Linked DNA regions of Homo sapiens: region 1 is linked to region 2. The links come from fine-mapping of genetic effects on gene expression. A gene starts in region 2. The other region holds a variant in brackets. All regions are shown on one strand. Distances are from middle to middle. Region 1 overlaps TPX2 (TPX2 microtubule nucleation factor). Region 2 holds the start of COX4I2 (cytochrome c oxidase subunit 4I2).

What was found.
Region 1: its variant is fine-mapped to the expression of COX4I2 in tibial nerve (GTEx, PIP above 0.99).

Annotation. Positions count from the first base shown.
Region 1 is chr20:31,741,809-31,757,796 of GRCh38, forward strand. It overlaps TPX2 (TPX2 microtubule nucleation factor), which reads left to right. Exons shown (of 18, transcript NM_012112.5): 2 at 733-839; 3 at 15,599-15,774. The coding sequence starts at 15,669. Among named protein-coding and RNA genes, the nearest start is that of TPX2, 11 kb to the left of the region's middle. The variant C/G (reference allele first, on the strand shown) is at 9,534.
Region 2 is chr20:31,630,941-31,646,928 of GRCh38, forward strand. It overlaps COX4I2 (cytochrome c oxidase subunit 4I2), which reads left to right and starts at 6,972. Exons shown (of 5, transcript NM_032609.3): 1 at 6,972-7,022; 2 at 8,078-8,159; 3 at 8,993-9,157; 4 at 12,464-12,595; 5 at 13,828-14,066. The coding sequence starts at 8,078. The coding sequence ends at 13,964. RefSeq lists enhancers at 2,763-3,263, 3,264-3,764 and a silencer at 6,893-7,032.

The DNA.
Region 1 (15,988 bases), 110 kb after region 2:
TTCACCACGTTGGCCAGGCTAGTCTCAAACTCCTTATCTCAGGTGATCCACCTGCCTCGGCCTCCCAAAGTGCTGGGATTACAGGTGTGAGCCACCTTGCCTGGCCTTAGAGAGATTTCATAACCCAAGCGATTCTGTGAATAGATCTGTATTTGAGACAGAGATGTAGAGATCAGCAGCCCAAGGTACTCTGTGAAAAAAGGATAGATAACTGCGGAGGGCTTCCGTTTTTGTTTGTGTAGGGAAACTTGGTAAAAGGGGAATAAAGAACAGTGAGAAAAGTATAAAATTGTATCTAGAGGTTACTTTGGAAATTAAAAATAATGTTATTTGTACTTAGTAAAACAAAGTAGTAAAAGTTTGCTCTTTTTTTTTTTTTTTTTTTGAGACAGTCTCACTGTGTTGCTCAGGCTGGAGTGCACTGGCTGGCGCAATCTTGGCTCACTGAAGCTTCCGCTTCCCAGGTTCAAGCGATTCTCCTGCCTCAGTGTCCCGAGTAGCTGGGATTGCAGGCGTGCACCACCATGCCTGGCTAATTTTTGTATTTTTAGTAGAGATGGGGTTTCACCATGTTGGCCAGGCTGGTCTTGAACTCCTGACCTCAAGTGATCCACCTGCCTTGGCCTCCCAAAGTGCTGGGATTATAGGCGTGAGCCACTGCTCCCGGCCTGTTAACCCTTTTTTACTACAGAGAACTTGGAACCTGTTTCATCACTTTTCTGCTTCTTCCAGGTTCTTGATACATATTTGCCAGACTTCAAGATTTCAGAAAAGGGGTGAAAGAGAAGATTGCAACTTTGAGTCAGACCTGTAGGCCTGATAGACTGATTAAACCACAGGTAAGGCAGTGACCATAGGAATAAGGAACATTAATATATCAGCTTCATAAGTGTTTAAATGACTAATGTAATTTTATAAAGTAACACATATTTTGGAAGGAAATTTATTTATTATGAAAAGCAAAAAGAAAATAAAATCACCCACTATCCCACCTCTCAGATAAACCATGGTTAGCCTTTTGATAGATTTCTTTATAATTTTTTTCTATGTCTATATAGTCATTCCTTGATATCCATGGGGAATTGGTTCTAAGACCTTCCCAGGATATCAAAATTCTCATATGCGGCCGGTTACTGTGGCTTATGTCTGTAATCCCAGCACTTTGGGAGGCTGAGGCAGGCGGATCACCTGAGGTCAAGAGTTTGAAACCGGCTGGCCAACATGGCAAAACCCCATCTCTACTAAAAATACAAAAATTAGCTGGGTGTGGTGGTGCGCATCTGTAATCTCAGCTACTTGGGAGACTGAGGCAGGAGAATCCCTTGAACCCGGGAGGCAGAGGCTGCAAGTGAGCCAAGATCTCATCACTGCACTCCAGCCAGCAAGACTCTGTCTCAAAACAAACAAAACAAAATTCTCAGATGCTCAAGCCCTGGTATAAAATGATGTGTAGTATTTGCATATAGCTTATGTACATACTCCCACATACTTTAAATTATCTCTAGATTACTTATAATACTTAATACAATGTAAATGCTATGTAAATAGTTGTTATACTGTATTGTTTAGGGAATAATGACAAGAAAAAAAGTCTAGGCTGGGTACAGTGGCTCAGGCCTGTAATCCCACCACTTTGGGAGACTTAAATAGGAGGATTGCTTGAGGCCAGGAGTTCGCGACCAGCCTGGGCAACATAGTGGCACCGTGTCTCTACAAAAAAAATAAAACATAAAAAAATTTAACCGGGCGTGGTGGCACCTACTTGTAGTCCCAGCTACTTGGGGGGCCAAGGTGAAGGGTCACTTAAGCCAAGGAGTTTGAGGTTACGGTGAGCTGAGGGCACCACTGCACTCCAACCTGGGTGGCAGAAAGAGACCCTGTCTCAAAAAAAGTCTGTACATATGCAGTACAGATGCAGTTTTTTTTTTTTTTTTTGAGGCAGAGTTTCGCTCTTGTTGCCCAGGCTGGAGTGCAATGGTGCAATCTCAGCTTACCGTAACCTCCGCCTCCCAGGTTCAGGCGATTCTCCTGTCTCAGCCTCCCGAGTAGCTGGGACTACAGGCATGCCACACCTGGCTAATTTTGTATTTTTAACAGAGATGGGGTTTCTCCATGTTGGTCAGGCTGGTCTCGAACTCCTGACTTCAGGTGATCTGCCCGCCTCTGCCTCCCAAAGTGCTAGGATTACAGGCGTGAGCCACCGTGCCTGGCCTTGCAGTTTTTTTTCCCCCAAATATTTTTGATCTGCAGTTGATTGAATCCACAGATATGGAACTCATAGATACGGACAGCCAACTGTATTTCATTTTTAAAAAAATCATACACTAAAAACTTTTGTTAATTTTTTTAACTTTTTTTTTTTTTTTTTTTTGAGTCGGAGTCTCACTCTGTCGCCCGGGTTGGAGTGCAATGGCGCGATCTCTGGCTCAATGCAACCTCCGCCTCCCAGGTTCAAGCAATTCTCCTGCCTCAGCCTCCCGAGTAGCTGGGATTACAGGCACCCGCAACCACACCCGGCTATTTTTGTGTTTTTAGTAGAGACGGTTTCACCATATTGGCCAGGCTGGTCTCAAACTCCTGACCTCATGATCTGCCCACCTCGGCCTCCCAAAGTGCTGGGATTGAGGCTTGAGCCACCACGCCCGGCCTCTAATTTTTTTAACTTAATAATCAGGCTATGAATATTTTCCCGTGTCATTAATAAATTTTCTTCTCTTTTCTTTTTTGTTTTTTTTGAGACAGGGTCTTGCTCTGTCACCCAGGCTGGAGTGTGCACTTCAGTGGCGTGATCACAGCTCACTGCAGCCTCCATCTCCTGGGCTCAAGTGATCTTCCTGCCTTAGCCTCTCGAGTTGCTGAAACTACAGGTGCATGCCACTGTACCTGGCCAAATTTTTCTACAACATAATTTTAATGGCTATATGGTATTCCATTATTTGGTTCTTTATATTACTTTTACCAGTGAAATTGCTGGTCTAAAAGAATGCGTATTTTTGGCCGGGCGCGGTGGCTCACGCCTGTAATCCCAGCACTCTGAGGAGGCTGAGGCGGGCAGATCACCTGAGGTCAGGAGTTCAAGACCAGCCTGGCTAACATGGTGAAACCCTGTCTCTACTAAAAATACACAAATTAGCCAGGCATGATGACGGGTGCCTGTAATCCCACTTACTCGGGAGGCTGAGGTGGAAGAATCACTTGAACCTGGGAGGTGGAGGTTGCAGTGAGCCGAGATCGCGCCATTGCACTACTGCAGCCTAGGCAACAGCGAGACTCCATCTCAAAAAACAAACAAACAAAACATATTTTTAAAAACTTTTGACATGTAACACCAAATTGCCTTGTAGGAAGATTATGCTGATTTACCTAAAACAGTATATATTCACATAGGCATAAATGTATAACTTAAAATAGGTAATATATTTGCATGGTGCAAAAATCAAAAGAATATAAAAAGCTTCATGGTTTAAAATCTTCCTCCAGCCTTGTTACTTCTTCACTCTCACCATCCATAGGTAAACACTTTTTTTTTTTTTTTTTTGGAGACAGAGTCTCACTCTGTCAACCAGGCTGGAATACAGTGGCACAATCTCAGCTTACTGCAACCTCTGCCTCCCTGGTTCAAGTGATTCTCCTGCCTCAGCCTCCCGAGTAGCTAGGATTACAGGCACGCCACCACACCTGGCTAATTTTTGTATTTTTATTAGAGATGGGGTTTTGCCATATTGGCCAGGCTGGTCTTGAACTCCTGACCTCAGGTGATCCACCTGCCTTGGCCTCCCAGAGTGCTGGGATTACAGGCATGAGCCATCTAATAAACACTTTTATTAGGTTCTTGGGTTTGAGTGTTTGTGTGTTATTCCCCAAACCAGATACCTTTTGAAGGGAATAAATCTCTATAAAATGAAATGACTGCTATTTGACTAGGATTGTAATCTGCAGCCACACTGTCAACCATTACAAACTTTTTCAGCTTCATACTATTGGAATATCAGATTACTTTGGGTTTCTACTAAGATTTCCTTTTAGTATTTTACAAAGCTCTCTGTCATTATCTGTCCTAGTAGTAAACAGCATCATTGATTTCCATCTAGGTCCTATTAGTCATAGGTGGATTATGGTTTGTTGAGTTCTATGGATAAATTATAGCAAAACTGAGTTTGTAATCCTTAAAAAAGGGCAATATGAAACATACAAGTTTGGGAGAGAAATGATAGGAAATATATTTGCTTGAAGTTTCTGGACAGTGATGAATTAGAACAAGTGTCCATGTGTCCTGTGCTGACTTCTGAGTGTTGGACAGTGAGGGATTGTCATTGGATTTTAAATTGACCCAATTTTGGAAGCTTCATAGATCTGTTTCTGTAAACAGATCCAATTTCAACATAGAAGTTAGCAAACATAAATGTGGAAACACAAAGTCCATTAAACTTCCTTCAGACTTAGTTTGTGACTTTGATTAACAGTTAAAATTGCATGCTGGATTATGTTGCCATTTACTGACTGCTGCTAATCCCTTATATACAAGAAAAAAATGTAGGTGTTTTCTCTCTGGGTAAGATGAAAGTAACTCCACTCTATTTTACTTGTGGTAATGTAACAGGATCTCTTATCCCTTGTGAAAGTAGGAGAGGATGTCCCTGGAGAAATGGCACTGCCTGGGATGGGACCATCTTAACTAACTATACTTCTAATGAAGTCTTGTCTTACTCTGTTTATTCTATTATATTACCAGTTTAACTCATGACTTTCTCTTTAATAGAAATAGGCAAGTCATATCTCACTGACTGGATAGCAAGGTGTTTGAGAGCATCTGTCACACCAAAGTCTTTGTTTTGCTCAGGAGCTGGTAGTCCCCTATTTCACCCTGCTTAGAATGCACCCTCTTGCAGCTTTCCCCAACCCGGTCTGAACCTGCACCTTTTGATTTATAGAGCTTGTCAAGACTAGTTATTTTTGGTTTGAGAGTGAAGAAAGATGGGAGGCAATGGGAGGTTAATTTCAGATGAATGTGGGAACAGGTTACATTGCTTTGTCTGCAATCTTCCTAATTTGTATTTGTCTTCCCCTTCCATTTATCTCTTACCCTAGAAAAAGTCAACGTTCATTCTTAGCTTGTAGAACTCCGCAGGTCTGTCTGTATCTTTTAAGTATTTTTTACATCAGGAAACCATCTCTGATCCTCTTTTATGCTGTTCTCCTTCTCTGCACTTCCAGAGCGCTCTCTGTTAATGCCCTCTTGCAGCAAGGATAGCCCTATATTGTAATTGTTTGCATTCCCCCATTCAATTGTGCGTTCTTGGAGGGAAGAGATTTTTTTTTGTTGTTGTTGTTTGAGAAGGAGTCTCGCTCTGTCCCAGGCTGGAGTGCAGCGGTGCAATCTCGGCTCACTGCAGCCTCCACCTCCTGGGTTCAAGCTATTTTCCTGCCTCAGCCTCCCGAGTAGCTGGGATTAAAGGCACGTACCCACCACGCCCGCTAATTTTTGTATTTTTAGTAGAGACGGGTTTCACCATGTTGGCCTGGCTGATCTCGAACTCCTGACTTCGTGATCCGCCTGCCTTGGCCTCCCAAAGTACTGGGATTACAGGCATAAGTCACTGTGCCCGGCCGAGATTTTATATCTCTATCTCTGTCTGTCTGTCTGTCTGTCTGTCTATCTATCTATCTATCTATCGTTTTAGTCTTCGCTTTTTGGAAACAAAAATGGGCTATAAGACACGATGGATGGCATTGAATAGGCAGTTTTTAGAGGAACCTAATTGGTTCATAGCATACAGGATAGGCTTTTTCCTTGGGTCTTTGTAGGAATATTGGTCATTAATAGCTATTTTTCCATGCAGAATATTTCTAGTTTTGCAAGAATCTGAAGCTGTGGTAGATTCAGATAATTTTGAAATGTGAAGCTGATTCTCTTGCTTGGCAACTTGATTTGTTTGGGGGAATGTGGTTGACGCATGTGCCTTTTTTTTTTTTTTTTTTTTGGTGAGACCTGTTGACAGAAATTCAATCTTGATTAAGGGACGCAGGAAGGCATCCAGTTCCCACCATGCCTGGGGCTCTCTCATTTAAACAGCTGCCTTTGGCTCTGGCCTGTTCCATTTCCCACTAGGCCCTGTGGACTTTAATTTTGGAAGATTTCACATCCTCATATTTATTATTTCTGGGGGAGGTAGTGTCGTGAAACCGAAATTACCCAGTAGTTAGCTTTTCGTTTTCTTGATGTACTTGTCCTATCAGCCTTAATTGAAGAGAGTCAGACTTCTCAATGGATATGTATTTATTTATTCTCTTTTTCCAGGGAGAGGGGATGGTCTCCTGAGTTGGCCATTCTAGACCAAAATATAGCTTAAAAGAAGCTTTTTTAAAGAACAGGTCATGTTAGGAAAATAATATTTTGTTTTTAAAATTTCACCTAAAGATTAAGTGTACTTAGGTTTGCACCCCTCGCCGTTTGTTCCCCACTAATCAAATGTAGTCTTAGACCTCAGAGGACAGCCTTTCTTCTGCTGCTTGAACCCTCTTCATAGTCTCTTTACTCTAGAATATCACTGAGGTTTTCACTAACCACCATCTTATATAGAGGAAAAACTTCATATGGAAAAGTATACTTAAAAAAAGAGGAATCAATGGATTTTTTAAAAAATTTATGGGAAGATTCAGATCAGAGCTTTCCAAATATATTTATAACAGGATTTGTAATTTGCTAAAGTTTTCTTTATGAGCATATCAGGGATGCTTAGTTTTCATAAAGGGCAGGATTTGTCTTTGTTGAACAGGATCTTATGATTTGATTACCTACCTCCTTTTTGAAGCAATGTTTATAGGAAAACTTGTGCATTAGAGAGACCCCAGATTTTGGAATCCTGCAGACTTGTTCTTTTAAAACTCAACACTGCTATGTATTAGTTTGGTGATCTTGGAATAGTGTAACTTCTCTGAGCTTGTTTCCTTGTTTATAAAATGGTGATGGTAGCATTTATTTATAAAGACATCTATCTATTGTCTATATTGTTAATGCAGTTTAAACGAGATGATTTATGTGAAGTGTCTGGTAAGGTGCCTGGCCTACAGTAGACAGTATTTGGAAGTTATTATCTCTTGCTCCATGACATTTGTTATTTATCTATTTAAATGTGAATTTTTTTTTTTTTTTTTGAGACAGAGTCTTGCTTTGTTGCCCAGGCTGGAGTGCAGTGGCGCGATCTCGGCTCACTGCAACCTCCGCCTCCTGGGTTCACGCCATTCTCCTGCCTCAGCCTCCCGAGTAGCTGGGACTACAGGCATCCACCACCACGCCTGGCTAATTTTTTTGTATTTTTAGTAGAGACGGGGTTTCACTGTGTTAGCCAGGATGGTCTCAATCTCTTGACCTCATGATCCACCCGCCTCGGCCTCCCAAAGTGCTGGGATTACAGGCGTGAGCCACCGCGCCCAGCTTAAATGTCTATTTTTAAATAAATAGGCAGTGGATAAGAACACCACCTTCGGTGTCTATTCCATTTGGAATCCTGGCTTTACTGCTTCTTAGCTGCATGACTGTGAATAAGTAGTAAATCTCTCTGTGCCTCAAGTCCCTCAGTATAGAATGAAGATAATAACAGTACCTACTTTATAGGATTATTGTGAGGATTTAGTGAGTTAATACATGTAAGACACTGTCAACAGTGTCTGGCATGTCATAAGTGCTCATTAAGTAATAGCTGTTGGCCGGGCACGGTGGCTTACGCTAGTAATCCCAGCAGTTTGGGAGGCTGAGGCGGGTGGATCACTTGAGGTCAGGAGTTCAAGACCAGCCTGGCCAACATGGTGAAACCCCGTCTACTAAAAATACAAAAAATTAGTTGGGCATGGTGGCAGGTGCCTGTAATCCCAGCTACTCAGGAGGCTGAGGCAGGAGAATCACATGAACCCGTGAGCCAGAGGTTGCAGTGAGCCAAGATTGTGCCACTGCATTCCAGCCTGGGCGACAAGAGTGAAACTCTGTCTCAAAAAAAAAGAAAAAAGTTAATAGCTGTTTTTATTTTTAACTTTTTCAAATTTATATACCCTTTTATTAAGTCAATGCCCCAGGAATCATTTTTAGTTCTATATAGAAATCTTATTATTTGTTTATTTTTAATTTTTTAAATTAATTATTATTATATTTTTGAGATGGAGTCTTACTCTGTTGCCAGGCTGGAGTGCAGTGGCACGATCTTGGCTCACTGGAACCTCCTCCTCCCGGGTTCAAGCTATTCTCCTGCCTCTGCCTCCCGAGTAGCTGGGACTACAGGCGCATGCCACGATGCCCAGCTAATTTTGTGTTTTTAGTAGAGACAGGGTTTCACCATGTTGGCCAGGATGGTCTCGATTTCTTTTTTTTTTTTGAGACGGAGTTTCGCTCTTGTTGCCCCGGCTGGAGTGCGATGGTGCGATCTTGGCTCACTGCAACCTCCACCCCCCAGGTTCAAGCAATTCTCCTGCCTCAGTCTCCCAAGTAGCTGGGATTACAGGCATGCACCACCACACCTGGCTAATTTTATATTTTTAGTAGAGACAGGGTTTCTCCATTTTGAGGCTGGTCTCGAACTCCTGACCTCAGGCGATCCGCCCGCCTTGGCCTCCCAAAGTGCTGGGATTACAGGTGTGAGCCACCGTGCCCGGCTATTTATTTATTTATTTATTTATTTATTTATTTATTTATTTATGAGACGGAGTCTCACACTGGAGTGCAGTGGCATGATCTCGGCTCACTGCAACCTCTGCCTCCTGCATTCAAGCGATTCTCCTGCCTCAGCCTCCCGAGTAGCTGGGATTACAGGCATGTGCCACCAAACTCAGCTAATTTTTGTATTTTTAGTAGAAAGATGGGGTTTCACCATGTTGGCCAGGTTGGTAGTTCTATATAGAAATATTAGAAAGAGAATATGTAACATTTGGGTAAGTTAATAGTCAATTTATAGGCCACGTAAATGGGAAGGATTATTTCCTTAAATCAAGAGATTAGACAATCATTGCTTGTCATGAATATTTAATAAAAATTTGAGAAAGCTCAGTTTCTTTTGGGCTGCAAACATAGATCTAGGGAAATAAATACTGCTTAACTATTTTGTTGTTGTTGTTGTTGTTGTCTTTTAAGAGACAGAGTCTCACTCTGTTGCCCACGTTAGAGTGCAGTGGTGCAATCGTGGGTCACTGTGGCCTCAAACTCCTGGACTCAAATGATCCTCCCACCTCAGCCTCCTGATTAGCTGGGACTACAGGCACACACCACCATGCCCAGCTACTTAGGAGGGGTTGAGGAGGGAGGATCCTTTGGGCCCAGGAGTTCGAGTCTAGCCTGAGCAACAGGCTAGATTCTTTAAAAAACAGAGATGAAAAAGAAAGAAAAAAAGGATGTGAAGGGTTAAATTTGAACACTTTCCAGGTAGTTTTCAGCATCATGCTTTGGTGGAATCATGGTTTTGAGGCTAAGTGGGGTTGCTGCATGTTACATTCCTGCCTCTTCCTTCCCCCAGCTTTAGTCGTCTTCATTACATTCATGCCTGGGAAGC[C/G]TTCCCAGTGACCTGAGTTAGGCATTAAGATCATGGGAATCCAAGATTTTCCCATGTCTTCTAGCATATTTGTTCACAAGAAAAGGAAAATTTCCTCCTTGCAGCAAGGGGTTTTTAACCACTGTCAGTACCATGGAATCTTTCACTAAAAATCCTTTGAATAGAAATGTGGTCAAGGAGAGGAAAGGTATCAGCAGTGATAATACCTTACAATAGTGTATTTCATAGCACTTGAAGTAGCTTCTTATTTGATTATGGTAAGAAGGTAGGCAGAGAATTAGTGACTTGCCTATTGTCATATACATGTGGTAAATGCCAGAGAGGGCATTCTGGACTTCTGTTAGTTGGAATTGCTTTTGACTACAGGTGACAGAAAATGTGGCTATAATGGTTTATACAATAATTATTATTATTTTCTGAGATGAAGTCTCACTCTTGTCACCCAGGCTGGAGTGCAATGGCGCAATCTCAGCTCACTGCAACCTTCGCCTCCTGGGTTCAAGTGATTCTCCTGCCTCAGCCTCCCGAGTAGCTGGGATTACAGGCACCTGCCACCACACCTGGCTAATTTTTATATTTTTATTAGAGACAGGGTTTCACCATGTTGGTGAGGCTGGTCTCGAACTCCTGACCTCAGGTGATCCGCCTGCCTTGGCCTTCCAAAGTGTTGGGATTACAGGTGTGAGCTACCGTGCCTGGCCTATTTTTTTTTAGTATAAGAAGTCTTTTTAGCAGGTCATGGAAAATTGTAAAAAACACCAGAAGTCTAGAGGTATATAGTAGCTGATATTTGATCTTTAATAGTCATTAGCTCATTGATGTTAAGCCCTATGTTTATTGTTCTCTTGGCCATCTACTCATGTATACCAGATGACTGCCATAGCTCCAGCTTGCCTTCAAGGCAAGAAGAAGGATAAAGGGAAAGGGCAGGAATAAGGGCTATAGCTGTTTTCAGGAAAGAAAATTTTTTCCTAGGAATCCCTCAGCAGATTCTTACTTAGTTCTCATTGGCCAGAACTGTCCCATGGCTACCCCAAGCTTGGAAAGTGGCTATCAGGAGGTAACTTCCATTTTAATGTACTTGCTACTGTTTTGGTCATGGTCAATGAAAAATATTTAATCGTACCTTGACTTCAGCCATGTTAATTTCTAATTCTCTATACTTAGAGTTCATACTGTATAATTTAAACAAACTGTCTTATTTATTGTGTATGATAGGACCTTAGCGTCTATGTAGATGTTAAGTTCCTTTGTGTTCAGGACTACATCTACTTTTTTTTCTTTTTTTTTGAGACGGAGTCTCGCACTGTTGCCCAGGCTGGATGCGGTGGCGTGATCTCGGCTCACTGCAAGCTCTGCCTCCCGGGTTCACACCATTCTCCTGCCTTAGCCTCCTGAGTAGCTAGGACTATAGGTGACCGCCACCATGCCTGGCTAATTCTTTTTGTATTTTTAGTAGAGACGGGGTTTCACCATGTTAGCCAGGATGGTCTCAATCTCCTCACCCTGTGATCCACCTGTCTCGGCCTCCCAAAGTGCTGAGGTTACAGGTGCGAGCCACTGAGCCTGGCCGCTTAGATCTACTTTTTGTGTGAAGATATAGAGTGTCATCCTTGAATGTTACTGAGAAACATTCAAGGGCACACAGCTTATGGCCCCTAGCAAGTACACACTATTGTGAACCACTGACAAAAAGCTTATTGAGTTAAGCTTAATAATGAAAGTAGAAATGGAGGAGAGAGGAAAATTTAGACTGGGGATACCAAAGAACCCCTATTCCAGACAGAAGACTATGGAGAATGGATTTACTTGGAAATAAATACAGTATTCTTTTCTATGCAAATAGCTTAACTTCATGAACACCCTTCTTTAATTCACAAGGTAAGAGGGCAGAAGGATGTAGAAAGAACATTGTGCTGAAGTCACGAGCCTCAGGTCCAGATCTGGCTCTGTTTTTACGTAACTGTGTGATACTGGGCAAGTCATTTAATCTTTCTGATCTTCAGCTTCTAGGTTGGGAATAATTGCTGCTTTACAGGATTGTTTTGCATATCAGAAAGAATACATATTTAGTATATCATGGCACCTGGCATGTAATGAACACCTCTGGTAACTGTTTTTACCATGATCCTTAGGATTTTTGTTGTGTGATCTTGGAGAACCCCTTTTTGCTTTAAGTTAATATCTTATAGACTGCAAAGGTTAGGTGTTAATCAAAGTTTCCTCCCAATTCTAAAATATCATGTTTCTACACTAAGTACCTCAATTAGAGCATTGTTATAAAGATACTTGTGGAATTCTGGCTGCAGTGAGCATAGGAGAGACCATGGGAAGATGATGTTCTCTGGGGTCTAGATTGATGTCACTGTATAAATGAAATATTTGTTATAACAGATGTTTCTGGCCGGGTGCGGTTGCTCATGCCTGTAATCCCAGCACTTTGGGTGGCCGAGGCAGGCAGATCACCTGAGGTCAGGAGTTCAAGACCAGCCTGGCCAACATGGTGAAACCCCATCTCTACTAAAAATAGAAAAATTAGCCAGGCGTGGTGGCGCACGCTTGTAACCCCAGCTACTTGGGAGGCTGAGGGAAGAGAATCGCTTGAACCCAGGAGGTGGAGGTTGCAGTGAACCAAGATCATGCCACTGCACTCCAGCCTGGGCGACAGAGCAAGACACCATCTCAAACAAAACAAAACAAAAACAACAACAATAACAGATGTTTCTGAGACACTATAAGGACCAGAAGTACATTATTTTTATTTATTTTATTTTTTGAGACAGAGTCTCGCTCTGTCTCCCAGGCTGGAGTGCAGTGGTGCGGTCTTGGCTCACTGCAGCCTCCCGGGTTGAAGTGATTCTCACCGAGTAGCTGGAACTACAGGTGCAGCCACCACCCCAGGCTAATTTTTGTATTTTCAGTAGAGATGGAGTTTCACCATGTTGGCCAGGCTGTTCTCGAATTCCTGACCTCAAGTGATCCTCCCGCCGCGTCCTCCCAAAGTGCTGGGATTACAGGCATGAGCCACCACTCTCAGCCCCTAGTCCATTTTGAATTGCCCTAGTCCACTGAGAGAAGCTGTGAAATGCTGGCCAAACCACTGAACGGCTATGTAGGTTGGGAGTAACTAATCTCATGATTCATCTCAGTGGATAGCTTATGTGGTATAGTTTAGAGAAAATGAGTGCTGCAGTGCCCAGAGTTGGGGAGAGTTTGGGGAACTGGCACACTCCTGGTAATGTAAGTGGGTGTTTTTTTCTTCTGAGGGACATTTTCACAGTATGTGTCAAGAGCTTTTGACCCAGCAGTTCCACCTCTTAAGATTTATCTTAAGGGAAGAATTATGGATGTGTACAGAAATTTAGCTACAAGGATGATGCTTTAGCAGTATCTTTAAAGTGAAAATATTGGAAAAAGGCTGAAAATCAAGGATAAGTAATTATGGAACAGATACAGCCATTAATTGATATGTCTATATTTATTGACATACAAGAATATTCATAATATGTGAAGCAGATTCAAACTGTCAATGATTCATTTAAAAAAATAATAGTTTGTATATATATGAGGGAGAAGACATCTGGAATAGTGTAGCATTATAGGTTTATTTATTTATTTATTTTTGAGCCGGAGTCTCGCTCTTGTCACCCAGGCTGGAGTAGAGTGGCGTGATCTTGGCTCACTGCAACCTCCGCTGCCTGCGTTCAAGGGATTCTTATGCCTCAGCCTCCTGAGTAGCTGGGATTACAGGTGCCCACCACTGCGCCTGGCTAATTTTTTGTATTTTTAGTAGAGACAGGGTTTCACCATTTTAGCCATGATGGTTTTGATCTCCTGACCTCGTGATCCACCCGCCTTGGCCTCCCAAAGTGCTGGGATTACAGGCGTGAGCCACCGTGCCCGGCCGCTTTTTTGTATTTTTAGTAGAGATGGGGTTTCACCATGTTGGCCAGGCTGGTCTCAAACTCCTGACCTCAGGTGATCCATCCGCCCTGGCCTCTCAAAGTGCTGGGATTACAGGCATGAGCCACTGCGCCACACTAGAAAGGTATTAATTTAAATAAACATTTATTCAAGTGATTACTGGCATCTACCTCCCTTCTAAGATACAGATACTTTTAAGTACATGTCGTTCCCTGGATAAAAACAAATGGCTGGCCGGGCGCGGTGGCTCACACTTGGGAGGCCGAGGTGGGTGGATCACTTGAGGTCAGGAGTTTGAGACCAGCCTGGCCAACATGGTGAAATCCCGTCTCTACTGAAAACAAAAAATTAGCAAGGTGTGGCTGTGGGCGCCTGTAATTCCAGCTACTAGAGACTGAGGCAGGAGAATTGCTTGAACCCGGAAGGCAGAGGTTGTGGTGAGCTGGGATCATGCCACTGCACTCCAGCCTGGGGGACAGAGTGAGACTCCGTCTCAAAAAAAAAAAAAAGACAAATGGCTCATTGGGTTTCATTGGCAAATTATTGGCCACTGAGTGTGGCCTTTAGGCTATTTATCAGATTACTTTCAGCTATTTTATTAACTAGATTAGGCTTGAGTAGGAGCTGACTTTAAACCTTCACAGGTTTCCACAAGATAGAGTGCAAAACTTCGTACGCAGGAGTAGGGAGGGGCCTATTTAACTTGTTCCCTTATCCTTGCTTCTGTTCCTATGCTGCATGTTGTGACTCTTACGTGTATTTCAAAGTTGTCGTCTTTATACTCAGAAATAGTATTTTTTGAGAATATTTCTAAGAAAAGACAACTTATATTTGACAAAACTGTGTTGAACTCTTACTATGTATAATGCACTGTGTTAAGCACCTTGATGGTTGGATGGATGGATGGATGGATGAGGTATACACAAGTGAGTAAAATCTATCTTTGTTTTTAGGAACTTCGAGTCTACTGGGAGAGACATTTACATAGTTAATATAAAATTGGATGATAAGTGTTACAGTGGAGATATAAACAAAGCACAATTGGCTTTGGAGAGGCAACAATTTTGTATGATAGGTGGAAATTGGGAAAGAGTTCATAGAGATTTGACCTGGACTTTGAATGATGGATAAGATTTTGGTTGGTAGGCATAAAAATTAGTGGTGTATTTTAGAAATTGGGTTATTCAGGGCAGAGAGAGAATAAATTGGGCTAGAGGAGGCTAGAAATGAGAAAATGGTAAATTGAGGGAAAATAATGACATGGTGAATGTAAAACACCTAGCACAGTGTAGATACTTATCAAACTTTGCCTCTTTTAAAAAACATTTAGAAAATTTATTTATTTATTTTATTTTTATTTATTATTATTTTTTTTGAGACAGAGTTTTGCTCTTCTTGCCCAGGCTGGAATGCAATGGCGCGATCTCGACTCACTGCAACTTTCACCTCCCAGGTTCAAGCGATTCTCCTGCCTCACCCTCCCGAGTAGCTAGAATTACAGGCGCCTGCCACCATGCCCAGCTAATTTTTTGTATTTTTTAAGTACAGAAGAGGTTTTGCCATGTTGGTCGGGCTGATCTTGAACTCCTGACCTCAGGTGATCCACCCGCCTCAGCCTCTCGAAGTGCTGGGATTACAGGCGTGAGCCACTGCTCCTGGCCTAAAATTTATTTTTAATTTCAATTTTTTCTTTTTGGTTTTTCTTTATATTTGCTGATTACTTAAAGATAATTTTTATTTTTTTAGAGATAGGGTCAACTACTTACAGATAATTTTTATCTTTTTAGAGACAGGGTCAACTGTTATACTTAGAGATAATTTTAATTTATTTAGAGACAGGGTCTGTCTATGTTTTGTAGGCTGGACTTGGACTCCTGGTCTCATGTGGTCCTCCCTCCTCCCAAAATGCTGGGATTACAGACGTGAGCCACTGTGTCTGGCCCACTTCTTTCTAATTCCAAACATATCTACCTCAAGGAGTATCTTTAAGTTACCTGAAAAACTAATGTTTAGGTTGATTGGACAAAGTAAGGCTATTTTCAGTAAATTCTAGGTGGTTTGCAAAATTACAAACGTGGTAGTAAAACCAAAGTAATGATGGGAATTTACTTAGATTTATGTGCAACCATTTCTTTCCTCAGAAGGTGACCTGCTGAGAAAAGTGGTACAAATACTGGGAAAAACCTGCTCTTCTGCGTTAAGTGGGAGACAATGTCACAAGTTAAAAGCTCTTATTCCTATGATGCCCCCTCGGATTTCATCAATTTTTCATCCTTGGATGATGAAGGAGATACTCAAAACATAGATTCATGGTTTGGTAAGTGCCTGCTTTCTCTGGCTATTTTAAGGATTAGTGGCTTGCTTTGTGCTGAAGACCTTTCAATAATAGAAGGGGTTGCAAGAAAAGAACTAAAATATCAACTTCTTTCTGCACCAAGACATTCTGTCATCCATGATATTATGGGAATAATTGAAATGCCCAGTATTTGGGGAATGGATTGTAAGTACAAAGCATATGTTGTTTTGTAGTT
Region 2 (15,988 bases):
TTCAAGCGATTCTCCTGCCTCAGGTTCCTGAGTAGTTGGGGTTACAGGCGCCCACCACCACGCCCGGCTAATTTTTGTATTTTTAGCAGAGACAGGGTTTCATCATGTTGGTCAGCCTGGTCTCGAACTCCTGATCTCAGGTTATCCACCTGCCTCGGCCTCCCAAAGTGCTGGGATTACAGGCATGAGCCACGGCGTTGAGCCTATTTTTTTGTATTTTTAGCAGAGATGGGGTTTCACCATTTTGGCCAGGCTGGTCTTGAACTCCTGACCTCACAATCCACCCACCTCAGCCTCCCAAAGTGCTGGGATTACAGGCGTGAGCCACCCCACCCGGGCCCACATGGCATTTTTATGATCTAGAAGTCACATAGCAACTTTCACCATATTCTGCTGTTTAATGCTGTCACAAAGGTACATCCAGGCTGAAGGAAGGGGGACATAGATCCCACACTCAAGTGTCAAGGTCATAATTGTACAATGAGCATGTCGAATTGGAGATATTGATAGGCTATCTTCTTTGAAAATACAATTTGCCACAATTCCTGATAAACTAGTTTGTAAAGCATAGCTTTGGTCTGTGGGTGAGAGGCCGGGTGTATTGCTCCGGTAGAGCTCTCTCAGATGGAACAGGTGAGTGGGAATAAGACTTGCCCTTGAGAGAAGAGCATTTCAGCAGAGGGAAGAGCAATTACAAAGGCCCTGTCATGGGCAAGGTGGGTGTGTTCTAGGAACTGAAGCCCAGTGTGGCTGGGGCATGGTGGGAGAGCAAGAGAGGCTGATGAAGAAGCTGTATTTGGAAGGTTTGGTAGTGGGGACCTTGAACGTCAGGCTAAGGAGTTTATTGGGAAGCCAGCGGTGCCAAGAAAGGCTCAAGGATACCATGAGGCTGTCCCCACATAGGCTGTCCCCACATCTGGGGGCCAAATACCCATGCCCATGTGCAGGAGCCAATTGTGTCTCAGAGAAGACAGAGGCCCTGGCCTCCAGGATGTGAAGGCACTAGTGCCTACCCCTAGGGCTGATGTGACACCTGCACTCCCAGATCTCACCACCTCAGCCCCTTTGCCAGGTTGGACGCCTCCCTCAGCCCCACTCCTCTAGTGTGTCTGCCCTGGTAGGGAGGAGGAGACGGCAATGGTATGAAGAGATCTGACCTGCCCCAGGAAGTTTCCATCTCTAGGCCACCTGTCCTGTCCTGTCCCGGTGAAATCTAGCCAAGGGCATTCATCTACCCCGATCATGCTATGGGTTCTGCGGCAGGCCAGGAAACCTGCCATTAGTGGCCATCCACTCCTATGGCAGTCCCAGCTCAACGTCAGTTTGTTTTTTTGAGACAGGATCTTGCTCTGTCACCCAGGCTGGAATGTAGTGGTGCAATCACAGCTCACTGCAGCCTCGACCTCCCAGGTTCAAGCACTCCTCCCACCTCAGCCTCCTTAGTTGGGACTGCAGGTGTGCGCCACCACATCCTGCTAATTTTTTGATTTTTTTTTTTTTTTTTTTTTATATAGAGACAAGGTCTCACCATTTTGCCCAGGCTGGTCTTGAACTACTGATCTCAAGCAATCCTCCCACCTCAGCTTCCCAAAGTGCTAGGATTACAGGGGCGAGCCACCGTGCCCAGCCCTCAGTGTTGGTTCTGGCCTGGCGTGTCTGTCCACGGTTTTAGAAGCGCTTGCTGGACGGTCCACCAGAGCTGCGGGTCTTCCCGCGACGTCCTCCGAGCCTGAGCTGCTGCCGAGACACCCTCAGCGTTCGGTGATTCCCATAGCTCCGCAGAGCCTCCGCTCCCACAGGTGAGCTGGGTGGGCCTTGCTCTCCGCTCCTGGCCAGGGCCCTCGGCTCACTGACCTCGCCCATCGGCTCGCTGGCTCTGCCCCCTCGGCGCCCGGTTCCCTTGCTGTCGCCTGGCCCCGCTCCTTGTGGTTAGCTCTGCCCACTCTCGCCTCTCCCCGCTCCTCCTGTACTAGACCTCCTCCCTGGGTTCAAGGGGCTCCCGGGCCTCCTGAAGGGCTGGGGGTCTGGGTCTGTGACGCTTTGTCCAGCTCCTCTTCCTATTTTCACCTTAGGGTCCTGCGTGAGGCCTAGCTCTTCCACAGTATCCCCTCTGGGCTGGCAGGCCGGAGGTGGGTCCTGTGTGATACCTAGAGCCTGGCTGGTGGGGGGATGCTGAGGCCATGGCTCAGGTCTTTGCATCTGGGCAGAATCTGGGGGCTCCCTGGAGCTGATCAAGTGAGCGTGAGCTGCCATCCCTCCTGCTGGCAGGTCTCAGCCTATCCCAGAGCTCTCAGCATGTCGGGCCTGTCACGACAAGTGGCCTGAATGCCGTGTCCGGAGTCCCTTCCACCCTTGGACCCCCCGCGGTTCCAGGAGAAGACCCTTATTCCTCGGCTCTGGGACCCCGAGTGGCCTGCCTTAAGGGACAGTCCGTCTCTTCCCAGGTTCAGGACCTTGAAAGGAGGCTCCGCAGTTGTCCTGCAGGCTATATTCACCGTGAGCTACTCAGGGCCGGCCTCCACCCCATGGCCCTCAGTCCGGGGCTGGGCTTCCCCCACAGATGTTCCTTATCACAGCATCACTCAACTTCTGGAGCCTGATGTTCCCACAGAGGCGGGGGCGGAAGAGGGCAGGGAAGAACAGAGGATCGCCTTTCCCAAATGCCTTCCCTTGGAAGACCCTGTGAAACTGAGGAGATGGGGGAAACTGAGGCCCAGAAATGGTGCCGCTTGGCCAGAGTGGCTGTAGTAGAGCCATGCATAGACACAGGCCACTCACTCCAGTGCAGCCACCGCCCTCCCAGCCACCCTGAAAAAGGTCTGGCAAGACTCATGACCTTCCGCCTGGCGCAGTGGTTCACGCCTATAATCCCAGCTCTTTGGGAGACCAAGGCAGGAGGATCCCTTGAGCTCAGGAGTTCAAGACTAACCTGGGCAACATAACAAGACCCTGTCTCTACAAAGCTTAAAAAAAAAAAAAAAAAAAGACAAGGCATGCTCTCCTCCAGGTTCTTAAAGAAGGAGTGTCTTCCCCTGTCCTCTGTCCATAGGGCTGTTCTGTAGAACATCCTGCTCAGTGACCGAGGTAAGGGGTGGTCCTTTTTTTTTTTTTTTTTTTTTGGAAAGGGAGTCTCACTCTGTGGCCCAGGCTGCAGTGCAGTGGTGCGACTTCGGCTCACTGCAACCTCCGCCTCGCGGGTTCAAGCGATTCTCCTGCCTCAGCCTCCCAAGTAGCTGAGATTACAAGTGCCCCCCCCACCACGCCCAGCTAATTTTTGTCTTTTTACTAGAGACGGGGTTTCGCCATGTTGGCCAGGCTGGTCTCGAGCTCCTGACGTCAGATGATCCACCCGCCTTGGTCTCCCAAAGTTCTGGGAGTACAGGCATGAACCACGGTGCCTGGCCAAGGTGATCCTTTTGGGGGTCTCTCACGTTTGGAATTACCTTGGTTGGGGAAGGGGAGGAGCAGCTCCCAGAGTGACCAGCAGAGGGCGCTGGGCCCAACATGGTCAGTTCTGGGAGCTGGACTCTTGGAACTCGGGAAGACTCCCAAGCTGCCTTCTCAAAGTTTTGTCTCTGGCAGCGTCTAGAATGGAGGTGATGTGCACTCTAGGGTCCCTCTAACACCTTCCCTTGAGCCCCTCGCCTTCTAGGCTCATCTGCCCCCAGGACTAAGCCCCCTCCCTTTATTTATTTATTTATTTATTTATTTATTGAGACAGAGTCTCGCTGTGTCGCCCAGGCTGGAGTGCAGTGGTGCGATCTCGGGTCACTGCAACCTCCGCCTCAGCCTCCCTAGTAGCTGGTACTACAGGTATGTGCCACGACACTTGGCTAATTTTTGTATTTTTAGTAGAGACAGGTTTTCTTCATGTTGGCCAGGCTAATCTCGAACTTCTGACCTCCAGTGATCTGCCCACCTTGGCCCCCCAAAGTGCTGAGATTACAGGCATGAGCCACCATGCCTGGCCAGCCTTTAGAAACTGTCTTTAGCAGGCCCCTGTGGACTCACTAGGGTATAGGAACCCTGATGGAAGGCATGGGGGCTGGGCATACCCCATGGACCTAGAGCCAGGAGACCTGGAAAGCTCTGGTCTCCAGGCCACCGAGGGGACCCCCAGCCCTCTCCCATTCATCCACCATCCGTATACTAACAGTCCCGGGACACATTTACTGAACTTGTGCTCTGCTTCATTTGAACACATCACTCCTCTTCTTAACTTTGGTTGCCTCCCACCTTCATTTTATTTTATTTATTTATTTATTTATTGAGACAGGGTCTCATTCTGTTGCCCAGGTTGGAGTGCAGTGGTGCAATCTCAGTTTACTGCAACCTCCACCTCCTGCCTCAGCCTCCTGAGCACCTGGGACTACAGGGGTGTGCCACCATGCCAGCTTAATCACCTTCTTTAAATAAAATCCAAGCTCCTCACTACCGCCTACAGGTCCTTCTCGGTGGTCCAGCCCACCTCTCCCTCCATCCAGCCTCCCCTTTAACCATGACACTCTGGCCAAGATGACCTCTCTTCTTTTGTTATTGTTTTTGTTGTTGCTTTGAGATGGAGTTTCGCTCTTGTTGCCCAGGCTGGAGTGCAACGGTGGGATCTTGGCTCACTGCAACCTCCGCCTCCCAGATTCAAGCGATTCTCCTGCCTCAGCCTCCCGAGTAGCTGGGATTACAGATGTGCACCACCACACCTGGCCAATTTTTTTATTTTTAGTAGAGACGGGGTTTCACCATGTTGGCCAGGCTGGTCTCAAACTCCCGACCTCAGGTGATCCATTCGCCTCGGCCTCCCAAAGTGCTGGGATTATAGGCATGAGCCACCGCACCTGGCTGTCTCTTCTGTTCAGTTGTTTTTTTTTTTTTTTTTGAGACGGAGTCTCGTTCTGTCGCCCAGGCTGGAGTGCAATGGTGCAATCTTGGCTCACTGCAACCTCCACCTCCCGGGTTCAAGCGATTCTCCTGCCTCAGCCTCCCAAGTAGCTGGGACTACAGGTGCATGCCACCACGCCTGGCTAATTTTTTGTATTTTTGGTAGAGATGGGGTTTCACCGTGTTAGCCAGGCTGGTCTCGATCTCCTGATCTTGTGATCCACCTGCCTTGACCTCCCAAAGTGCTGGGATTACAGCGTGAGCCACTGCACCTGGCCTGTCTCTTCTGTTTTTTGAACATGCTGTGTTTTCCTGCCTCTGGGTCTTTGCACAGGCCTTTTCCTCTGCCTAGAACAGAATTGTAAGCCCTGTGGGGGCAGGAACTATGTCTGGTTTTTTTTGGCTCTATAGCCCCCAACATTTATCCTGGTAAACAAGTATGCAATAAATGCCAGCTGAAACAGGTCTTTATAAGTTTTTTTTAAGTTTTTTTTTTTTTTTTTTTTTTTTTGAGGAGTCTCACTCTACCACCCAGGCTGGAGTGCAGTGGTGCGATCTTGGCTCACTGCAACGTCTGCCTCCCAGGTTCAAGCGATTATCTAGCCTCAGCCTCCCGAGTAGCTGGAATTATAGGTGTCCCCTGCCACACTCGGCTAATTTTTGTATTTTTAGTAGAGACGGGATTTCACCACGTTGGCCAGGGTGGTCTCAAACTCTTGACGTTAGGTGATCTGCTCGCCTCCGCCTCCCAGAGTGCTGGGATTGCAGGCATGAGCCACCACGCCCAGTTTTATAAGTAATTCTTGAATAAATGTGCCTGAGCCTTGTCTATTTTTTTTTTTTTTTTTTTTGAGATGGAGTCTCGCTCTGTCACTAGGCTCGAGTGCAGTGGCATGATCTTGGCTCACCGCAACCTCTGCCTTGCGGGTTCAAGCCATTCTCCTGCCTCAGCCTCCTGAGTAGCTGGGACCACAGGCGCCTGCCACCATGCCTGGCTAATTTTGTTTGCATTTTTAGTAGAGACGGGGTTTCGCTGTGTTAGCCAGGATGGTCTCCATCTCCTGACCTCATGATCTGCCCCCCTTGGCCTCCCAAAGTGCTGGGAATTTTTTTTTTCTTTTTCTTTTTCTTTTTTTCTGAGACAGAGTCTTGTTCTGTTGCCCAGGCTGGAGTGCAGTGGCCCGATCTCGGCTCACTGCAACAGCCGCTTCCCAGGTTCAAGTGATTCTCCTGCCTCAGCCCTCTGTGAAGCTGGGACTATAGGTGCGCGCCACCACGCCCTGCTAACTTTTTTTTTTTTTTTTTTTTTTTTTGAGATGGAGTCTAGCTCTGCTGCCCAGGCTAGAGTGCAGTAGCCGGATCTCGACTCACCGCAACCTCCGCCTCCCGGGTTCAAGCGATTCTCCTGCCTCAGCCTCCTGAGTAGCTGGGATTACAGGTGCGTGCCACCACGCCCAGCTAATTTTTGTATTCTTAGTAAAGATGGGGTTTCACCATGTTGGCTAAGCTGTCTCAAACTCCTGACCTCGTGATTTGCCTGCCTTGGCCTCCCAAAGCGCTGAGATTACAGGCATGAGCCACCGCGCCCGCCCAATTTTTCTATTTTTAATAGAGAAGGTGTTTCGCCATGCTGGGCAGGCTGGTCTCAAACTCCTGACCTCAGGTGATCCTCCCGCCTCGGCCTCCCAAAGTGCTAGGATTACAGGCGTGAGCCACTGCTGGCCTAAAAGATGCTTCTGGAGTAGGAGGCATTGGGCCTGGCTGGAAGGTTTGCGTCTGCAAAGGCCTGAAGAGAACATCCCAGGTGGGAGAAACAGCAAGGAGGGGAGGTGTGGAGGAGGCAGGGAGACCCTGTTCTTGGGACTACTGTCTGCAGAGGGTCTCCAGAGGCAGGACCCCGGTAGGGACACTGATGCAGGAGGCGCTCTGCAGTGCCTCCCCCCAATCTGTGGGCCGGGGTGCCCCCAGGGACGCAGGCTGTGCGCTCCCACGCCCTGCCGAAGCAGGACGTTCCCACGCTGGGGCGGCCCCGAGAAAGGCTGTGGGGCGGGCCGGGGGCGGGCGCCCGCACTCAGGTCCCTCCGCAGCGGGTTCTCAGTTGCTCGCTGGGCAGACCCAGGTCGCGCTCCCACTGCCGAGCCCGCGAGGTGAGTGAGTTGGGGGAGGACCCCGCCACCCAAGCCCGCGCGGGTCAGGGGCGCGGCTCGGTCTCCTGCCTTCGCCGCTGGGTCACGCCCCAGTGGTCCCTGTCTTAGAGGGTTGGGGGGCTTCTTGTAGGTTAGAGTTGAAGACTCCTGGGGAGTCTGCATATGTGTGCCATCTCTTTCCCCAAATATAGATTACATCCTCCCTCTCTTGATATGTGGAGCTCTCCCACCCACTAATCATAATCACTGGCCGGAGCCCCTCTTTTCCAGAAGTGTGGGCCGCCCCCTCCCACTTATCACCTGTAGTGTGCCCCCTCCCTCACTCTATTTGTTGGGTGCCCCTCTCTCTCCCTAGATGTGGGACTCCCCTTCTTTTCCCCAGATGTGTGTCTCCCTCCCTCTGACCCAGTTAAGTCCCCATCCTCTAAAGCCCCTCCCCACCACCATGGATGCCAAACCCTGAGTCTTCCCTGGGGGTGGGAGACTGGGCTCAGCCAGACTGGCTAAGCCCAGTCCCCACCCCAACCAGATCCAGCAGAGCAGGCCTGTGTGCACGTAGGCAGCCAATTAGGGGGGAAGGGGTGGGGGCCAGACCGTCTGTCTGTTCTGCCGGTGCAGGGGCCTCTGGCCCCTGCAGGGAAGAGAGACTCAAGAACTGCTCCCTCTCCACCTGGACCCCACCCAGCTTCCTCTGGGGAGCAAACAAGTGAGCGGGGTTCTCCAATCTGGCCAGACTGAGCTGGGGCTGGCACCAGAACCCAAGCCCTCAGCCTCAAACTCTTCAGACCCTGGCCCAAGACTTAGGCCTCCTCCCACTTCTCAGATGGTGAATTGAGGTCCCAAAAAGGGGCTTCAAAGGTCTAGGACCCCCATTGGCCCCCCGCTGGGGATATCAGACAAAATTAGAAGGGTCAAGGGCATGAGGGTGACCTTGAAACACTGGGACACCCCTACCACTACCATACCAGTGGAAAAGGATTTTTCCATCTGGCCCTGCGGTTTGGGGGCAGAGGGTGATGTGGGGGCAGAACTCATCTATACCTTCACGCCCCCAGATGCTCCCCAGAGCTGCCTGGAGCTTGGTGCTGAGGAAAGGTGGAGGTGGAAGACGAGGGATGCACAGCTCAGAAGGCACCAGTGAGACCTGGACTCCTTCCTCCCTGCCTAACTCCAGAGATAGGGGCAGGGGTCCCCTCTGCAGGCTGCCCCCTTTGCCCTTCCATGCCACCCTGGGCCTGTTCCTACCACACTTCCCATGTTCCCATGATCCCACTCCTTGGTCCAAGGTCAAGTTTCTCCAGGAAATGGAGTGCGCGGGGTGAGCAGACAGTGGTCATCTCCATTCCAAGCTTCCTTAGGAGCCAGCCCCCAAGCCTCAGGCCCCTAGACCTTTTGTTCTGAGGTGGAGGATGCTGACAGAACCTTGGACCCTGATTCCTCCTTTCCAGACCCTAGTTTCAATGCTAGTAAGAAGAAAGAGACCTAAAGTAGGAGAGACTTCAGCCAGATAGCAGAAGGGCCTTGCTGACCCATGGAGAATAACAAAGATAACATTTATTGAGCCCTTACTAGTACCCCAAGCTATTATAAACCTCCTTTTTTTTTTTTTTTGAGATAGAGTCTTGCTCTGTCGCTCAGGCTAGAGTGTTCAGTGGCGCAATGTCGGCTCACTGCAACCTCCGCCTCCTGGGTTCAAACAATTCTCCTGACTCAGCCTCCCGAGTAGCTGGGATTATAGGTGCCCACCACTGCGCCCGGCTAATTTTTGTATTTTTAGTAGAGGAGAGGTTTTACTGTCTTGGCCAGGCTGGTCTCGAACTCCTGACCTCGTGATCCACCCGCCTCAGCCTCCCAAAATGCTAGGATTACAGGCATGAGCCACCAAGCCCGGCCACCTTCTTTATTAATATAGTTAGAGATAGGGTGTCCCAAGGGCAGCCTGGACTCAGCTCCCTCCATTGTGTCTGCAGCCCGTGGTGGGGGGAAGATGTCCCCCTACACCAACTGCTATGCCCAGCGCTACTACCCCATGCCAGAAGAGCCCTTCTGCACAGAACTCAACGCTGAGGAGCAGGCCCTGAAGGAGAAGGAGAAGGGAAGCTGGACCCAGCTGACCCACGCCGAAAAGGTGGCCTGTAAGTGTCAGGGTGGGGCTGGCTGGAGAGAGTGGGTTGGGGGCTGACTTTGGAAAGAATGGCCTGTCAGGGATCAGAGGGCAGAGAGAGGCCCCCAAGACAGCCAGAAACCTCCAAACACCTGAGGGGTGAAGTTCATGCCTTTGTTCGTTTCTTTATTCACTCACCTGTTTGTGCATAGCCTGATGCTAGGCAATGCTGGGGACATGAGGTGAATCACCTGGATAGTTCCTGCCCCCATGGTGCCCCCGGTCCCGTGGGGAAAACCAATACAGACTCCAATAATTGTAATACAGAACATGTGGCTAGGGTGAGGTGTGTTCAAGGACTGTGAGATGAAATCTTGGTGGACCTCCCAGAGGAGGGCACATTCCAGCTGGCCTTTAAGGGTGAAGAGGAGGGCACTGCCAGGGAGTGGGAACTGCATGGGGAAGGGTGTCAGAGCAGGAGACTGTGGAGGGCCCTGGAATTGAGTGATGTGGGGGAGATGGGACAGAGAGAGGCAGGTGAGGCGGTTGGGGAGGAGCCCTCTGACCCTGGGAGGCTGGAGGGATGTGTGGTCCCTTGTCATGTCCACCAGAGCATCCCTGAGCTGACCCTTTGAAATTTGGAGCACCTTATTTTCATTCCATGAATGGGAACACTCAGCCTGACCTCCAAGATTTCAAGGGATTCCTAGTGGGGAAAGGTTCATGCTTCTCACATTCATTCATTCAGTCAACATCTTATTTGGCACCTACTACAATACCATGCACTGGGAATGCAGCTGTGAGCCAGCCAGGCTCCGTTCCTGCCTGTGAGCTTGCATTTCCAGCCCTCTCTCAGCACCTTTACCCCTTCTCTCTCTCTCTCTTTCTACACACACACACACACACACACACACACACACACACACACATCTTGGTTTTTTCTTCATCCATTTCAGAAATTGACACTCTTGGGGGGAGAGGGGAGGAATAGCATTAGGAGATATACCTAATTCTAAATGATGAGTTAATGGGTGTAGCACACCAACATGGCACATGTATACATATGTAACAAACCACATGTACCCTAAAACTTAAAGTATAATAATAATAAAATTTAAAAAAAAAAGAGAAATTGACACTCTTTATCTGAGCATGGTGGCACATGCCTGTCGTCCCAGCTATTTGGGAGGCTGAGGCAGGAGGATCACTTGAGCCCAGGGGAGCTGAGGCTAGAGTGAGCTGTGATTGTGCTACGGCATTGCACTCCAGCCTGGGTAACAAAGTGAGACCCTGTCTGAAAAAAAAAAAAAAAAAGAGAGAGAGAGAAAGAAATGATGGACATTCCCCAAGCAAGATGATAATGAGCACCATCCCTAATATGTCCTGCACGCTTACATGTAGCAGGCACCGCTGTGGCGTTAGGTTGCTCTCGTTAGCTCACATTTGAGAGACTGAGGCTCAGTGGCGTGCAGTCACTTACAGTGGTTGCACAGCTAGAGAGTGGTGGAGGCAAGATTTGAAACCACATAGACAGGCACCAGGGGTTTCACCCTTAGCTGCTACACCACATTAGCTACAATGAAGGTTTGGTGGGATGCTTGGGGAGTTTCAGTGTAACCTCACAGCTCAAACAACTTTTTTTTTTTCCTTTTCTTTGAGACAGGGTCTCTGTCACCCAGGCTGGAGTGCAGTGGCCCCATCTCGGCTCACTGAAATCTCTGCCTCCTGGGCTCAAGCGATCCTCCCACTTTGGCCTCCTGAGTAGCTGGGACTACAGGCGGGCGCCACCACACCTGGCTATTTTTTTTTTTGTATTTTTTTTGTAGAGACAGGGTTTCACCATGTTGGCCAGACTGGTCTCGAACTCCTGATCTCATGATCCACCCACCTCAGCCTCCCAAAGTGCTGGGATTACAGGGGTGAGCTACCATGCCCGGCTATTTATTTATTTATTTATATTTCTGTAGAGACAGAGCAGTCTCACTATGGTTGCTCAGGCTGGTCTTGAACTCCTGGGCTCAAGCAATTCTCCTGCCTCGGCCTCCCAAAGCACTGGGATTACAGGCATGAGCCATCATGCCAGGCCAAATGCCTTGAGTCTTGTCAGACCTCTTCCAGGGCAGGCAGGCGTGGCAGCACTGGAGTGCATGGCCTGTGTCTATGCATGGCTCTACCACAGCCACACTGAGTGGCCTCCACTGGTTGATTTCATTGTCTCAGCCTGAACCGCCCACCCAAGTATCTTCCCAAAACCTAAGACAGTTCCCTTTTCCCAAGGAATTCTGCTGCCAGCTTTGATTTTCCTTTAGATATTTATTTTCATATTTATTTAATGTACTGAGAAAGGATTACACACGTAGGGTAATTTTTTTTTTTTTTTTTTTTTTTTTTGAGACAGAGTCTCGCTCTGTCGCCTAGGCTGGAGTGCAGTGGCATGATCTCGGCTCACTGCAACCTCCGCCTCCCGGGTTCACGCCATTCTCCTGCCTCAGCCTCTCGAGTAGCTGGGACTACAGGTGCCCGCCACCACTCCTGGCTAATTTTTGTATTTTTAGTAGAGACGGGGTTTCACTGTGTTAGCCAGGATGGTCTCGATCTCCTGACCTCGTGATCCACCACCTCGGCCTCCCAAAGTGCTGGGATTACAGGCGTGAGCCACTGCGCCCGGACTTACCTGGCTAATTTTTAAATTTTTTCTAGAGACAGGGTCTCGCTTTATTGCCTAGGATGGTCTTGAACTCTTGGACTGAAGCAATCCACCCGTCTTGGTCTCCCAAAATTCTAGGATTACAGGCATGAGCCACCAAGCCTGGCCCCCTCCCTAATTCTGTTAGAATGAAATCCAAACTCTTCTCCATGGATTCTAACAAGGTCCTGTGTGAACCGGCTCTGCCTCTCATTTGAGAGAGCCAGCCTCTCATTTGCTAAATTCTCTCTCTTTTGCTCATTTCACTCCAGCTACAGTGGTCCTCACTTCACACTTTCCCTACCCACTTCCTGCTTCAGGGTTTTTGCACTTCCTTCCAGTTTTCACCAACTTTCTCCCATTGATTTTTCAAACCTCAGCTCCAATGTCACCTCCTCTGAGACACCTTCCCTGGCCAGCCAACTGTTTGCCTGAAGCATTTGCCATTGTCTCCCCCTCTAAACTCCACAAGGGCAGGGATTTTCATCTGGCTCATTCACTGCTGTCACCTGTTCCTGGTCATGCTGTGCATATAGTACGTGCTCAGTAAGAATTTGCTGAATGAACAGCATCTGCTGCAGGGAGGGGGAAGCCGGGATCACTTAGAGTGGACGCACCTGAGGCCCCTTCCCCACACCCAACTGCCTCCAGTGTACCGGCTCCAGTTCAATGAGACCTTTGCGGAGATGAACCGTCGCTCCAATGAGTGGAAGACAGTGATGGGTTGTGTCTTCTTCTTCATTGGATTCGCAGCTCTGGTGATTTGGTGGCAGCGGGTCTACGGTGAGTGGCAACACCTCATCTGGCTGCAGTCCTGGGCCATGCCCTTGTGGTCACGGCCACCAGACAGTTTCTTAAAGGAACCATGCTGGCACTCATCTGAAGAGCTGAAAATTTCTGAAGAGGTGTAGGGTGAAGGACAGAGCATGGCTGTCTAGGTTTGAATGCAGGAACTTTACCTCTCTGGGCCTCAGTTTCGTCATCTCTAAAATGGGAATAGTAATGTTCCATCTCAGGGTACTTAAGAGGATTTTAATGAGAGAGGGCTGTAGGCCAGTGTTTGGCTCATAGTCATGAATGGTGTTGTAACTGATTGTTGTGTATGAACTGTGTGTTTTTCAGTGTATATATATACTGAACTTCTGCCTCCCCAGTTCAAATGATTCCCCTGCCTCAGCCTCCCGAGTAGCTGGGACTACAAGAGTGTGCCACCACGCCCGGCTAATTTTTGTATTTTTAGTAGAGACAGGGTTTCGCCATGTTGGCCAGGCTGGTCTCAAACTCCTGACCTCAAGTGATCCGCCTGCCTCGTCCTCCCAAAGTGCTGGGATTACAGGCATGAGCCACTGTGCCCGGTGGCCTGTCCCCATATTTTTAAAGTGAACACTCTTACCTACTTCCTACTTTCAACCCTCTTAGAAAGTAAAAGGAATTATTTCATCCTGGACCCTGCCCAGCAAGTGGGAACAAACTCAGTAATTATATAATTATAGTAGGTAACATGTATCAGGTGCTTAATATTTGTCTAACATTGTGCCAACAGCTTTGGAAATACTCAGTCCCCACAATCCTAGTGGATAGGACCTCTTTTGACAGGTAAGGAAACTGAGGCTCAGAGAGATGAAGTGACTTGTTGAAGGTCGCAGGGCAAGGGAGTGGTAGAGCCAGGATTTGGATTCAGGCAGTCTTCAAATCAGTGATCTTATTACCACAGACCACAGAGGTAGGTGAGGTGACTGAGTTGTGAAGGACCTTGGCCCAGCTCCCACAGTCCTTGGGGTCTAAGGCAAAGCTGGGGTCAGAACCCAGAGGTGCCTGGGACGATGCTCTAGGAGAAAGTCTGGGGTGCGGGGCTAGACAGGGTGGAGTGAGCTCCTCAGTGCAAGATACTTCAACCCTGGAGTATCTTGTACCGTCAGCCTTGCGAGTGGCTGGGAGGCTACAGGGTGGCTGGAGACCCTGGCTGGTGTAGGAAGACTGGCAGGATCCTGATCCACCCCATGTACTCCCTGCAGTATTTCCTCCAAAGCCGATCACCTTGACGGACGAGCGGAAAGCCCAGCAGCTGCAGCGCATGCTGGACATGAAGGTGAATCCTGTGCAGGGCCTGGCCTCCCGCTGGGACTATGAGAAGAAGCAGTGGAAGAAGTGACTTGCATCCCCAGCTGTCTCCCTGAGGCTCCGCCCTGGCTGGGAGCCTCTGGCGGCCCCTCCCCTCCCCTGCCCTTAACCCCAGTAAAGCTCCAAAAAAAAATTTATTCTCTTCTGCCTCTCACCACCACTTCAGACTTTACTTGGCACCTAAAATTAGGCATTTTAACAGGTGAGGGGCAAGAAGGGCTCAGAACTCATCTAGTCAATGAGGGCTTCCTGGAGGAGTGGGGGCTACAGCCAAGGCTTAGGTGGGATTAGGAAAGGCAAGAAGAAGGGAAGGCATTCGGGGTGGAGCAAGTGGCTTAATCAAAGGTGAGAACACTCTTTTATTCAGCTAATTAACAAATACTTGGCCGGGTGCGATGGCTCACTCCTGTAACCCCAGCACTTTGGGAGGCCAAGGAGGGCGGATCACTTGAGGTCAGGAGTTCAAGACCAGCCTGGCCAACATGGTGAAAGCCCCATCTCTACTAAAAATACAAAAAATTAGCTGGGCTACTTTTACACCCAGCTAATTTTTGTATTTTTTTTTTTTTTTTTTGAGACGGAGTCTCGCTCTGTCGCCCAGGCTGGAGTGCAGTGGCACGATCTTGGCTTACTGCAAGCTCCGCCTCCCGGGTTCATACCATTCTCCTGCCTCAGCCTCCCACGTAGCTGGGACTACAGGCGCCTGCCACCACGCCCGGCTACTTTTTTGTATTTTTAGTAGAGACGGGGTTTCACCGTGTTAGCCAGGATGGTCTTGATCTCCTGACCTTGTGATCTGCCCGCCTCGGCCTCCCAAAGTGCTGGGATTACAGGCGTGAGCCATGGTGCCCAGCCTAGTTTTTTCTATTTTTAGTAGAGACAGGGTTTCACCACGCTGGCCAGGCTCGTCTTGAACTCCTGACCTCATGATCTGCCCGCCTTGACCTCCCAGAGTGCTGGGATTACAGGCATGAGCCACCACGCCCGGCCTTTTTTATTGGTAGAGACAGGGCTCCACTATGTTGCCCAGGCTGGTCTCGAACTCCTGGCTTCAAGTGATCCTCCTGCCTCAGCCTCTCAAAGCGCTGGGGGATTTTATTCTAAGTGTGATGGGAAGCTGTGTCCATTTGGGTTCTTTGAGAAGCAAATGCCAAGAAGGAATTAACCATGTGAAGAGATTTATTGGGGGTGATGCCTGTGAGAGATAAAGGAGAGAGGAAGCAGGAGTAGGTTGGGAGAATCTTCAGACTGTGGTGCAGATCTGACACCTGTGGAAGAAAAGAAGGGAAGAAAGGAGAGTTGCATAGGAACAGCCTCAGACTTCAGGGCCTCTGGATCATTCTGAGTCCCATCAGGAGACAGAAACCACAAAGCAATTTAAACGGGTTGTTTAATATAAAAAAATTATTAATCTTACACAGGAAAGTAACCATAAAGATGCGAAGGCCGGGTGTGGTGGCTCATGCCTGTAATCTCAGCACTTTGGGAGGCTGAGGTGGGCAGATCACCTGAGATCAGGAGTTGAAGACCAGCCTGGCCAACATGGAAACCCTGTCTCTACTAAAAATACAAAAATTAGCCGGGCATAGTGGCACACACCTGTAATCCCAGCTACTCAGGAGGCTGAGGCAGGAGAATTGCTTGAACCTGGGGGACGGAGGCTGCAATAAGCCAAGATTGCGCCACTGCACTCTAGCCTGAGCAACAGAGCAAGACCTTGTCTCAAAAATAAATAAATAAATAGGCAAAGGCCAAGCACAGTGGCTCACGCCTGTAATCCCAGCACTTTGGGAGGCCGCAGCGGGTGGATTACCTAAATTGCGAGTTTGAGACCAGCCAGACCAACATGGAGAAACCCCGTCTTTACTAAAACTACAAAATTAGCCAGGCGTGGTGGCGCATGCCTTTAATCCCAGCTACTCGGGAGGCTGAGGCAGGAGAATCACTTGAACCCGGGAGGTGAAGTTTGCAGTGAGCCAAGATCACGACATTGCACTCCAGTCTGGGCAACAAGAGGGAAACTCTGTCTCAAAAAAAAAAAGAAGGCACAGAGAC